2 linked regions of the Homo sapiens genome follow. The protein of the gene in region 2 interacts with the protein of the main gene of each other region in a pairwise test. Each region holds a gene or a part of one and is shown on either strand. Other genes may lie near its edges.

Evidence for each region.
Region 1: the proteins of LRRC25 (region 2) and FAM3C interact in binary tests that used the Homo sapiens proteins (3 or more experiments, as listed by UniProt).

The regions. Positions count from the first base shown.
Region 1 is NC_000007.14:121,389,756-121,393,405, forward strand, and holds part of FAM3C (protein FAM3C precursor), read right to left. Parts: intron 3,173-3,650; exon of another isoform or gene 3,113-3,172; intron 1,607-3,112; exon of another isoform or gene 1-1,606. UniProt on the Homo sapiens protein: May be involved in retinal laminar formation. Promotes epithelial to mesenchymal transition.
Region 2 is NC_000019.10:18,390,950-18,394,699, reverse strand, and holds the end of LRRC25 (leucine-rich repeat-containing protein 25 precursor), read left to right. Parts: intron 1-2,574; coding exon 2,575-2,713; 3' UTR 2,714-3,563; downstream 3,564-3,750. UniProt on the Homo sapiens protein: Plays a role in the inhibition of RLR-mediated type I interferon signaling pathway by targeting RIGI for autophagic degradation.

The sequences.
Region 1 (3,650 bases), on a different chromosome or scaffold from region 2:
AAGTGGCAAAAAAAAAAAAAGGTAGACATCAAATGATTATGCCACACCTTACTATTTCAGTGGACTATAATTACAAAACAGGAATCACTGAAGTACAAGGAGGATAGAAATCAGACTTCTGAACTGAGCCAGCAACATCTAAATGACTGGAAATGAGTAGGATGAAATTAATATGGGGCCAAACTGGAGTCTATTACACCCCCATATACACCTAAGTTGCATTTTAAAACAAAGTCATCAGTACAATTTTCATTACAAATAGATGTCAACTAAGGACACCTTATATAAACTCCTCATTGCAATCAAATAATTTATATGGTAAAAGATCTGAAGAACTGTTGCTTTGTAATTTTTTAAAATCTCATATCTGCTATGCTTCATAATAACCTGTTAAGATAATAAGAGGAACCTCTGGTTGCCAGGCACTTAATACCCTATTTATTTTAACTAAACTCATTTTGCATCTTGCTTCCCTCATTTTAACTAAACTCAGGATAAGGCTTACAACCACATTTTTATTTCTTAGTAGTGAAACCACCATTGCAAAATTATAACTGAAATGGTGAAAAAGATCTGACCTAACCAACTCCATCTTGCTTCTAACCTCCAGGTTGTCCTTGTTCATTCCTGGGCATAGGCCATAACTTTGGGAGGAACTTAGTTTATAGTTTAAAACAAAGATGGTAACAGCCCTTTCCCAAAACAAACCTCCTTCTTGCCTGGGGACTAGACTGCCTTTGTAGGACTAACAAATTAGCCACAAGATTGGAAATTAGGGCTTAGGAGTCATGCAGCTGAAAGCTACCAGATTCTGACCCTTACCATCTGTGGCGTCATAGATTCAATGAAACATCATATGTTCTTTGAACCTCTTACTACAGGGTTACCTATAGCATGCACACCAGAATTACTAGTGTGTTTTTTAAAATGCAAACTCCTGAGCCAACTGCATACCTGGAGAATCAGAATCCCTAGGAGTGGGATTAAAGCTCTTGCATGTTTAATAAGCTCCCCAGATGACTGTCATTCGTGCTCAGATCTGAGAGCTTCAGATCTACAGCACACCAATCCACACACACAGGAAAGGCTGTGTGGGGCGGGGGGGGGGGGGGGGGGGAAGGTAAGGCAGATCTAAACCAAAAAAGTTCAAAAGTAAAATTCACATGACAAGATTTTTCATTCTTTCTGGAACAGTCAACCTGCCACCAGAATGGGTCTTCAGTTTTGGTGGGCAACAGATAAATCCAGAGAAAATGTGGTGAGGAATAAATAATCAAGAACTCCTGTTTGCAGGGGTTAAACCAGAGTACTAGATTTAATATTACTCAAATGTTTTCTTGCAGTTTTTATTATCTACCAAAGCAGAATTTTGCTTAAAAAGTTATAATCCACTTAACGAAATGAAATGGTGACTGGATTTCTGCAACCAAGACCACAAACATACCCAAAACAGAAAACAAGACAGAACTCTACAAAATGACATTCAGTTTTGCCTGCTATGAGTTCTACAATTGTTTAAACACTTGTGATCTAAGCTACCTTAATCCTATAGTACACCATCCAGGGAGAGATGGATAGATGAATGAATGGATGGACAGAAAGAAATAGCTATTCTTAGAAACAATGACAACAATAAAATGAAATATATTAACTGTTAGAGGTTGAACATAAATGGGGTAATGAAGTGTCCCACTCATAAACTGCTAAAATGAGATTAGAGAAAGGTACACATTTACATACAGTAGAACTGCTATCTTCATCTCATGTAACTATCTCACATTGTACTAGATGAGAAGTTATAGGTTCCTGTTCTACGTGTTTAAGAATTCCCTTAGGTATCCACTCTACTTATGCTGTTTTGAAGTAGTCTGCAGAATTTAAGTGCACCAGGGTAGACATAATTCCATCAGTCACACCCTCCAAATGAAGACATGGAGAAACAGAATGGTTCCATCGCCCAAGGGTCCTGGATGAAATGCAGTATTGGCACACCATTTGTACCACAAAAACTGAATGAGAATTAGCACTGCTGAAGTAAATTAAAATGGAAACCATGCCTGAAGAATCCCCGAGCAGACAAAACCAATTAGGCCTCATAAGTGACATCAACCTCACTTGATTTGCAAACATAAGCAAAATATGAAGTTACTTCTTATAAATGCCTATGCTAAAGAAAAAGAGAACTTAAGCTTAATCAATCAGAAACATCCAACAAACTTCTAATTACATATCTAGGGGACCTTCCAACACGACAGACCAAATAAAACAACTGTATAACTGCAGCCAATCAAATATTTTCTTTGCTTTACATCTGTGACCCTCCTATAAAAGCCTCCCTCCTGGATTCCCCTGGTGGAGCTCCCAGATCTGGTTTGGAGCTGCTCAATTCATGAATTGTTTGTTCAAATAAACTCTAAAGATGCTTCTATTGTAAAATTTTGTGAAAACGTATTGTATTAGTCCGTTTTTGCACTGTTATAAAGAAATACCCAAGACTGGGTAACCTATAAAGGAAAGAAGTTTAACTGACTCACAGTCCCACATGGCTGGGGAGGTGTCAGGAAACTTACAATCATGGAGGAAGGCTAAGGGGAAACAGACACCTTTTTCACAAGGCAGCAGGAGAGAGAAGAGAGAGAGTGCAGGAAAAACTTCCATTTGTAAAACCATCAGATCTTGTAAGAACTCACTGTCACGAGAACAACATGGGGGAAGCCGCCCTCATGATGCAATCACTTCCCTCCCTCGACACACAGGGATTACAATTTGAGATGAGATTTGAGTGGGGACGCAGAACCAAACCACACCACGTATCAACTGAACCAACTTAAAAATCCATTTTTGTTGACCTTGCGTCTTTCAAAACTCATTTAACAATCACTTAACTGCAAGTAATGAATGATATGTTAGGTAGCACACCTGACACCATAACACTACCTTAGCAAGCCTTGTAGAGATTATGACGAAAATCAATTTAGAGATGTTCATATAACTTTCTGAATAGCACACAAAAATTTAACAAATGAATAAACAAAATGCAGTACGTATCAACGAAATGATATATATGTAATGTGGTGTATATGAATGGAATATAGAATGGAATATTACTCACCCTTAAAAAGGAATGAAGTACTGATACCTGCTGATTTAGAGGACGAACCTCTAAAACATGCTAAGTGAAAGAAGCCAGACACAAAAGAACACATATTGAATTATTCAATTTTTAGGAAAATCCAGAATAGATAAATTTATGGGGGCAGAAAGCAGATCAGTGGTTGCCGAGGATTGGCAGGGAGAAGGGAATGAACAACTGCTTAATGAATATGGGGTTTCCTTTTGGGGTGATGAAAATGTTTTAGAAACGTGACGGTTCATAACATCATGAACGTGCTAAATGCCACACTTTAAAATGGAAAATCTGGCTAGGCATAGGGGCTCATGTCTGTAATCCCAGAGCTTTGGGAGGCTGAGGTCGAAGGATCACCTGAGGGCAGATTTGGCCAGCCTGTGCAAAATAGTAAGATCCCGTCTTTTAAGAAAAAAAATTATAAAATTAGTCGTGTGTGGTGGCACATGCCTGTAAACCTAGCTACTCCACAGGCTAAGGTGGAGTTCAAGGCTACAGTGAGTTATGATCACACCACTGCACT
Region 2 (3,750 bases):
GGCCAAGGCGAGGTCAGATCACCTGTGGTCAGGACCTCAAGACCAGCCTGACCAACATGGTGGAACCCTGTTTCTACTAAAAAATACAAAAATTAGGCCGGGCACGGTGGCTCATGCCTGTAATCCCAACACTTTGGGAGGCCAAGGCAGGAGGATCACGAGGTCAGGAGTTCGAGACCAGCCTGGCCAATATGGTGAAACCCTGTCTCTACTAAAAATACAAAAATTAGCCGGGCATGGTCGTGGGTGCCTGTAATCCCAGCTACTTGGGAGGCTGAGGCAAGAAGAATCACTTGAACCCAGGAGGTGGAGGTTGCAGTGAGCCCAGATCGCACCACTGCACCCCAGCCTGGGCGACAGAGCGAGACTCCGTCTCAAAAAAAAAAAAAAAGAAAGAAAGAAAGAAAAAAAGAAAAGAAAAGCTTTTCTAGGTTGGAAAAGGGAATGGAGGGAATTTCAAGGGGTGGGACCCTCAGGGGCAGAGACCCAGAGGTGGGAAAGAACAGAGAATTTGCTGTGAATGGTTTTTGAGAAGGGATGACTTGAAAGCTGAGGCCTGAGGGGAACAGGGAGGGCCAAGCAGGAAGGGGCCGCGGCCATGGCTGTGTTTGGGCAGCAGAGTCCGTGCCAGGAGGTGGGGAGGCTATCGGAAGGCTGTTGGTGAGAAAGGAGAAAATATGCAAAGCAGATGTCAACATGGCTCAAAAGCAGAAATGGTCTGAGGCAGGGTGTTGAAGACACTGGACTCGCAAAAGCAGCTTGTGCTCTGATGTTCATCTTGGCCTCCCTGTCCCCGAGGCTTCCGGATCAGCCTCCTTTATGTACTGGCCTCCAGAAACACTGTGTTTAGAATTGACTGTGTCATTTCCACCCTGCATCTTACAGTTACAGACATGGAGGCTCTGGGAGGCAGGGAAATGACTTGTCCAAGGTCACATAGCCAGTCAAAAAAGGCAGGACACAAACCCTGCGTCCCAGACCTGTTCGTCCCCCTACAACCACTTAGGGGTTGGTGGGCAATTCGTACTAGAGTATAATTGACTGATAGATGCTGTTAACACAAAGTAGCCCTTTTGCCTTTTTTTTTTTCCCGCTCTGTCGCCCAGGCTAGAGTGCAATGGCATGATCTCGGCTCACTGCAACCTTCACCTCCCGGGTTCAAGTGATTCTCCTGCCTCCTGCCTCAGCCTCCCGAGTAGCTGGGATTACAGGCGCCCACCATCACACCCGGCTAATTTTAGTAGAGACGGGGTTTTGCCATGTTGGCCAGGCTGGTCTTGAACTCCTGACCTCAGGTGATCTGCCCACCTTGGCCTCTCAAAGTGCTGGGATTATAGGCGTGAGCCACCGCACCTGGCCCAGTGGCCCTTTTTACAAGAGGAGCTGGGTTGGAATTAGAATGTTCAGGAGGCAGGAAAATTCTCTGGAGGTCTTGCTGACCATAACAAATATTCCTAAGTAGCTACCTGCTCCTTGACCAATTCTATAGATGCAGAAACTGAGGCTCAGAGACTTGCTTTTATATATGAGGGCCACAAAGTCAGTTGCTTCAGTGGTGAAAACATTTCCCATCGGAAGGAGCACAGAGTGTGGGTGCAGCCACTTGTGTGCATGTGACTGACGTGGCCAGAGCTTCCGATTTTTCAAGAGGAAACAAAAATTTAGATTTTAATGTAATAATGAACAGCTACCTCAATTTCTGTTTTTTTTGAGACGGGGTCTCCCTCTGTCATCCAGGCTGCAGTGCAGTGGTGTGATAACGGCTCACTGTAGGCTCGACCTCCTGGGCTCAAGCGGTCCTCCCACCTCAGCCTCCCGAGGAGATGGGACTCCAGGCACACGTCACCACGCCTGAATAATTTTTTAATTTTTTGTAGAGATGGGGTCTCACCCTGTTGCTCAGGATGGTCTCAAACTCCTGGCCTCAAGCAGACCTTCTGCCTTGGCCTCCCAAAGTGCTGGGATTACAGGCATGAGTCACCGCGCCTGGCCGCTATCTCATTTTTAAGGAAGGAAAAAGGGTTCAGGGTCCTCAGACCGCAGCGTTACACCCACAGAACCTTCCCTAAATCACTGCCCTCCCGCAGCCTCCTCAGAGAGAGGTGGGGTTGGCTAGGAGTCAGAACGCTAGCCCGTGCCAGTTTCCCCATATGTAAATATTCGGGGTGGACTGAGCCACTCTGAAGCTTTCTTTTTTTTTTTCCTTCTGAGATAGAGTCTTGCTCTGTCTCCCAGGCTGAAGTGCAATGGCACGATCTCGGCTCACTACAACCTCTACCTCCTGGGTTCAAGTGATTCTCCTGCCTCAGACTCCCGAGTAGCTGGGACTACAGGCCTGTGCCACCATGCCTGGATAATTTTTGTATTTTTAGTAGAGACGAGGTTTCATCATGTTGTCCAGGCTGGTCTTGAACTCATGATCTCAGGTGATCCACCCACCTCAGCCTCCCAAAGTGCTGGATTACAGGCGTGAGTCAGAGCACCTGGCCCACTCTGGACTTTCTCAAAGCTCATGTGCCTGTCCCCTGAGTCCTCCCCCTCCCACACTTACCCCTGGTCTGTCTGTCCCCCCAGGGCTCACCCTTCAGAGGACAATGACTTTTACATCAACTACAAGGACATCGACCTGGCTTCCCAGCCTGTCTACTGTAACCTGCAGTCACTGGGCCAGGCCCCAATGGATGAAGAGGAGTACGTGATCCCCGGGCACTGAGCCTAAGATGTCCTAACCTCCACCCAGAACCCCTTCAGTCCCTGCTGGGTGACTCAGGGCGTCCTAACGCCTCCATGGCCTCAGTTTCCCCATCTGAAGAATGGGTACAGGAAAGGATTGTCCTTGAGGCCCCAGGAAGCTCTGCCGCCCCCTCCCTGTCCCTCATGCCGCTCCTCAGCTCCCTCAGCTCCTAGAGGGGGAAGAGGAGAGACCCCCAACAAGGGGACAGGACGGTCACTGTGCCAATCCTGTCATCACCCTCCTGTGGATGTACAGGCAGTGCTCAATAAATGCTTCGAGGCTGATGAGGCTGCTGGCTCAGGGTGCGTGGGTTCCTCAAGGTGGGGATTTCTGAGTTCTAAGACCAAGTCTCCATCTGAGACTCCCAAATTGCTCCCCACCTCCCATCCCTGTTTTTTTTTGTTGTTGTTGTTTGTTTGTTTGTTTTTGAAACTGAGTGTCACTCTGTCACCCAGGCTGGAGTGCAATGCTGCGGTCTCAGCTCACTGCAACCTCCGCCTCCTGGGTTCAAGTGATTCTCCTGCCTCAGCCTCCTGAGTAGCTGGGATTACAGCACCCGCCACCATGCCGAGCTAATTTTTGTATTTATAATAGAGATGGGGTTTCGCCATGTTGGCCAGGCTGGTCTCGAACTCCTGACCTCAAGCGATCTGCCCGCCTCGGCCTCCTGAAGTGCTGGGATTACAGGCGTGGCCACTGCGCCCAGGCACATTCCTCCCTTCTGCCCCTCTCAGGGCCCCTTCCCAGGTCCCTGATCTCCAGGCTTGGCCTCCAGAGCAGCCCACACCAACCCCAAAATAAAAAAATGTATATATTCCTTTAGCTCTAATATTCTGAGAAAATCTTTCAAGACCCTGGTGCAATGCCACCTCCTTTGAGAAGCTGTCCCTGGTTTCTTCTCAGGCAGAGTTAATGACTCACAGATGTCTGTATTTCAAGAGTTTTTTCAGGCTCATGCCTCAACTGGGTTTCCTATCAGCTGGTCCCAGCCCAATCCTCCAACCTGGGGGAGATAG